2 separate regions of the Homo sapiens genome follow, and region 2 is linked to region 1. A link means that fine-mapping ties the variant in region 1 to the expression of a gene that starts in the linked region. Tissue or cell type: whole blood. Region 1 holds a variant in brackets; the other region holds the start of a gene. All regions are shown on one strand. Distances are from middle to middle. Region 1 has its middle 27 kb from the start of ARRDC2. Region 2 holds the start of ARRDC2 (arrestin domain containing 2).

The links. PIP is the estimated chance that this variant, and not a neighbour inherited with it, causes the effect.
Region 2: it holds the start of ARRDC2, and the variant in region 1 is fine-mapped to the expression of ARRDC2 in whole blood (INTERVAL, PIP above 0.99).

The regions. Positions count from the first base shown.
Region 1 is chr19:18,033,844-18,036,747 of GRCh38, forward strand. No RefSeq gene overlaps it. Among named protein-coding and RNA genes, the nearest start is that of ARRDC2, 27 kb to the left of the region's middle. The variant A/AG (reference allele first, on the strand shown) is at 1,285.
Region 2 is chr19:18,006,561-18,009,464 of GRCh38, forward strand. It overlaps ARRDC2 (arrestin domain containing 2), which reads left to right and starts at 1,610. Exons shown (of 8, transcript NM_015683.2): 1 at 1,610-2,024; 2 at 2,151-2,217; 3 at 2,411-2,558. The coding sequence starts at 1,751. RefSeq lists an enhancer at 1,664-1,883.

The DNA.
Region 1 (2,904 bases):
AAAAAAAAGTGAGCTTGGAGGCCGGGCACAGTGGCTCATGTCTGTAATCCCAGCACTTTGGGAGGCCAAGGCAAGCAGATCACCTGAGGTCAGGAGTTCAAGACCAGCCTGGCCAACATAGTGAAAGCCCGCCTCTACTAAAAAAAAAAAAAAAAAAAATTACCCAGGCATGGTGGCACATGCCTTTAATCCTAGTTACTCAGGAGGCTGAGGCAGGAGAATTGTCTGAGCCAGGGAGGCGGAGGTTGCAATGAGCCGAGATCGTGCCACTGCACTCCAGCCTGGGTGACAGGACGAGACTCCGTCTCAAAAAAAAAAAAAGAAAAGTGAGATTGGGCTGGACACAGTGGCTCACACTAGTAACCCCAGCGCAAGGCAGGAGGATCCTTGAGCCCAGGGGTTTGAGAACAGCCTGGGCAACATAGTGAGACTCCGTCTCTACAAAAAATTTAAAAATTAGCTCAGTGTGGTGGTATGCACCTGTAGTCCCAGCTACTCAGGAGGCTGATGCGGGAGGATCGCTTGAGCCTAGGAGTTCAAGGCTGCAGTGAGTTATGATTGCACCACTGCACCCCAGCCTGAGAGACAGAGCAAGACCCTGTCTCTGTTTTAGAGACAAATACATGTCTCTAATATATATATAATATATGAAAATATATATCATATATATAGATACATACATGAATATATAGTATATATTTATAGTATATCTATGTATAGTGAGACCCCATCTCTACAAAAAAGAACAAAATTAGCTGGGTGTGGTTGTGTGGGCCTATGGTCCCAGCTACTCAAGAGGCTGAGGCGGGAGGATTGCTTGAGCCCAGGAGGAAGTCAAGGCTGCAGTGAGCCAAGATTGCACCACTGCACTCCAGCCTGGGCAACAAGAGTAATAACCTGTCTTTAAATTTTTTTAATGTAAAAATAAATAAAAATTTAAAAGAAAAGGCTGGCCAGGTGCCATGGCTCACGCCTGTAATCCCAGCACTTTGGAAGGCCAAGGCGGGTGGATCGCGAGGTCAGGAGATCGAGACCATCCTGGTTAACACGGTGAAACCCTGTCTCTAGTAAAAATACAAAAAATTAGCTGAGCATGGTGGCATGTGCCTGTAATCCCAGCTACTCGGGAGGCTGAGGCAAGAGAGTAGCTTGAACCCAGGAGGCGGAGGTTGCAGTGAGCCAAGATCATACCACTGCACTCCTGGGTGACAGAGCAAGACTCTGTCTGAAAAAAAAGGCAAGGCAAGGCAGGGAAGGGCAGGGAAGGGCAGGGAAGGGCAGGGC[A/AG]GGCAAGGCAGGGCAAGGCAGGGCAAGGCAGGGCAAGGCAGGGCTGTTTGGGGCTTCCCTTGCTCTCTGGCGTGTTTCTCTTACCAGATGATGCCTGCACCACGTGATAACACAGCAAGGAGACCCTCGCCGGATATGGCCCAATCTTGGACTTCCCAGCCTCCAGAACCACAAGCCAAATAAACTTCAATTGTTTATAGATTACCCAGCCTGTGGTATTCTGTTACCACAAAGCAGAAAGCTAAGACAGTTGTTTCTCTGAAATTTGAAGTTAACGGGGTGCCTGGATGTGTATTTGCTAAACCTGATCCCCCTGTGATGAAGCCTCCCACATCACAAAAAAAATCTTAGAAATTTAAAACTTAGCCAGGTATGGTGGTGCACACCTATAGTCCCAAACTCAGGAGGCTGAGGCAGGAGAATCCCTTGAGCACAGAAGGTCAAGGCTGCAGTGAGCCATGATCGCACCACTGCATTCCAGCCTGAGTGACAGAACAAGACCTTGTCTCTGTCTTTTTTTTTTTTTTCAGACAGAATCTTGTTCTGTCGCCCAGGCTGGAGTGCAGTGGTGCGATCTCGGCTGATTGCAACCTCTGCTTCCTGGGTTCAAATGATTCTCCTGCCTCAGCTTCCCGAGTGGCTGGGATTATAGGCGTGTGCCACCATACCTGGCTAATTTTTGTATTTTTAGTAGAGACAGGGTTTCACCATGTTGAGCAGGCTGGTCTTGAACTCCTGGCCTCGAGTGATCAGCCCGCCTCAGCCTCCCAAAGTGCTGGGGTGACAGGCGTGAGCCACTGCGTCTGGCCTTCACCTTTCTCTTTTATCCTTACTTTTATTTTTTTTTAGACCGGATCTTGCTCTGTCGCCCAGGCTGGAGTGCAGTGGTGCGATCGCAGCTCACTGCAACCTGGACTTCCCAGGTGCAAGTGATCCTCCTGCCTCAGCCTCTCGAGTAGCTGGGACTATAGGTGCATGTCACCGTGCAAGGCTAAAACTTTTTTTTTAAAGAGATGGGATCTTGCCATGTTGCCCAGGCTGGTCTCAAACTCCTGGGCTCAAGCGATCCTCCTGCCTCGGCTTCCCAAAGTGTTGAGATTACAAGTGCGAGCCAATGCGCCTGGCCTTATCGTTGCTTTTGAGGTGAGAAGATGGAGGTCCAGCATCCAGGGCCAGATTTGAGCCCACTGGGTCCTTTGTCTCTAGCCTTAGTAGCACTGGCCATGAAATGGGACTTTAGCCAACTGCAGGTGACCAAGAGCCAACCTTGCATCTCAGGCTGCTGGGCCCCTCTGAGCTCAGCCCCGGGGGCTTGTTGCAGGAAGGCCCCTCACTTTTATTTATCCCCCCACCCCCACTGTATATGTAACTGTCTGAAACTCACTGTTAACCCCATAAGGAAAAATGTGCTGGCTGGGCACCATGGCTTATGCCTGTAATCCCAGCACTTTGAGAGGCCGAGGTGGGAGGATCACTTGAGGTCAGGAGTTCGAGACCAGCCTGGGCAACATGGTGAAACCCCGTCTCTACTGAAAATACCAAAATCAGCCGTACATGGTGGCATGTGCCTGTAATCCCAGTGTCTCAGGAGGCTCAGGCAGGAGAATCGCTTGAACCCGG
Region 2 (2,904 bases), 27 kb before region 1:
TGGCAGCAGCACAGTCCAGCTTCTGCTCGGCATGAGAGGGAGACCGTGGAAAGAGAGGGAGAGGGAGACCAAGGGGAGAGGGAGAGGGAGAGGGAGCTTAAAAATTGTTAAATTGTTATACATTTAAGGAAAAAACAGTGACACTGGAGGGGCGAGGCCAGTGGAGGTGCTGTGTGACCTCGGGCAGAGCCCCACCCATCTCTGGGCCTTTGGGGTCCGTCTGCGAAATGAATTGAGGGAGGCGCTGGCTCAGTAGTCCCTTCAGGGTTACCTAATCCCGCTTCTCCTCCCGGACTTAACGGCCTACTGTCTCCCCTCTAGTATCCATTGAAACCTGGCCTAAGGTCCCAGACCTTCCTTTCAACTCCAAAGACCCATCCTCCCAGGCAGCCTTCCAGGCTGATCACTGTGCCTCCAACTCCGTCGTTCCTGTTCCGATCCCCATCACGGGCTGAGGGTGACCGTGTTTGTTTATGACCGCCCCCTCCACCCACACACCTCACTGAGGTGGTGGAAGTCTCCTGAGCCAGGCTCAGAGGCGGACAGTCACGGCAGGGGATGGGTTCAGCGGCAGCGCATTACGCTGCCACGAGAGGGCGCCAGCGTCCCGCAGACGACGCAGAGGCAACTCCCGCTGGAGAAACTCCATGCGACTTTTCTTTGGGGAAACTGAAGCCCAGAGAGAGGTCACGCCGTCCCGTGGCCACACCGCAGCTGTGGACCTGGGGGTGCCCGAGCGTCCCCTGCATTCAGCTCTGTGGCGGGACGGGGGCTGAGGATGACTGGAGCAGGCACAAGGGCTGCGGGGAAGGTAGGGTTTGCCAGAGGCTGAAAATTGGGAAGGGAACATCATTTCGTAGGTACCGCTCCTGGGCGAATGCGCCGAGGCGCGACCGAGTGACGGTATGTCAAGAGCAGGTTGATGACCCGGGAGCGAGGCTCTTGGAGGAGTCCAGCTGGGGCTGCACGATGATCCATGCACAACCTTCTGAGGTCAGGACTGATTTTTACTTTCTCCCGGCTCTACAGAGGTGGAAACTGAGGCTCCAAGAGGTTGTCATTTGCCCAGAGCCACCAGCTAAGCGGGACTTGAATCAGGAAAGGGGTGCAGCAGGCACCAGTGTGGAGGGCGGTCCCACCCACCTCCTCCACTTCTCCCTTTGCATAGCGGGGGAAACAGGCCTGGAACAGTCATAGGCTCTCTGGCCCTCAACTGGGGCGAGAGTCCCCCGCCCCAAATCGGGCTGGACATGCCTCGAGTCACGTCAACGAGGGGCGGCTGGTGAGTGATTAAGCCGAGAGGCTGAAGGCTCTGCTAGGTGACCTCAGGCCTGGGCCCTGCCTCTGCACCTCTTTTTTTCCTCTTTACCCCCGGGGTCCGCGAGAGACCAGCTCTGGCAGCCTAAGGGCTTCAGTTTCTCCCCGGGGTCCGCGAGGGAAGGGGGCAGCCGGCGGTGAGCAGGGGCGTTTGTTATTTTGCTCCACGCCTGGGCAGAGCCACGCCCCTTGTCGCGCTATTGGTGGAGTCCCTTCCCGGGGCGGGGAAGAGACGGTGACCCCACCCCCCCCCGCCCTGCCGTATAAAAGCGGCGCCGACGCACGGCGCGGGGATTTTCTGCTCCGGTTGGTGAGCGCGCCTGCGCGTTGACGGCGATTTTGCGTTCTGAGGCTGCAGCGTCGGCATCTTGAGCTGCCGGTTCGCGAGTTCGAGGCCAGGTTCCGCCTGTCGTGGGTTCGCACCCCGGACGCGATGCTATTCGACAAGGTGAAAGCGTTCTCGGTGCAGTTGGACGGCGCGACCGCGGGCGTCGAGCCCGTGTTTAGCGGCGGCCAGGCCGTGGCGGGCCGGGTGCTGCTGGAGCTGTCAAGCGCCGCGCGTGTGGGTGCCCTGAGGCTGCGCGCGCGGGGCCGCGCCCACGTGCACTGGACCGAGTCGCGCAGCGCGGGCTCGAGCACGGCTTACACGCAGAGCTACAGTGAACGCGTGGAGGTCGTGAGCCACCGCGCCACGCTCCTGGCGCCAGGTACGGATGGAGGACCCCTGCTCCAACACCAGTTGTGTGCCTCCCACCACCTGGACGGCGGTACCTCCGTCAGCCCTGGGACCCCAGCGCAACCGCTCAGTCGCCTCCTTTTTCTCCTACCTGCAGATACCGGGGAGACCACGACGCTGCCTCCTGGGCGCCATGAGTTCCTGTTCAGCTTCCAGCTGCCCCCGTAAGTCCTCTGGGGTGCAGGGTTGCCCTAAGCCTGCAGCCCCTTCCAGATTGGTACCTCCAATACTGGATATCTGGGCACCTCTGAGCCCCAAGACTCTCCCCCTGGGAGGCCCCCGGAGTGTCTGTGTCTCCTTCTCCCTGCCTGCTTGTCTCTGTATCTTGTCCCCTGAAGTCCCGTCCCTCCACCCTAGGACCCTGGTGACATCCTTCGAGGGCAAACACGGTAGTGTCCGCTACTGTATCAAGGCCACCCTGCACCGGCCCTGGGTCCCAGCACGCCGGGCAAGGAAGGTGTTCACTGTCATCGAGCCTGTGGACATCAACACGCCAGCCCTGCTGGTGAGTGGCCACCCTTGGGGAGGTAGGTTGGGAGTATTGTAGGAAGGGGCCTGCCTGGCTGCTGGGCGACACCAACCAATAAGATGGAGGTCATAGGTGGGCCCTGGCAGGGAGGGAGGCAGGTGTGGGAATGCGTGTGGAATCCACTGGGATCTGCACCCATTTGCCGTGTGACTCTGGGCAAGTGTCTTGAAGCCCTCTCTGAGCCTCAGATGCCTCTTCTGTGAAATAGACCAGAGCTAGGGCTTACCAAGTGTGAATTACACACCAAACACTTGGCTTATACATTTCATTTCTGGCTTTATAAGATGGGTTGTGTTCCTGGCTCTATTTAACGGATAGTTCC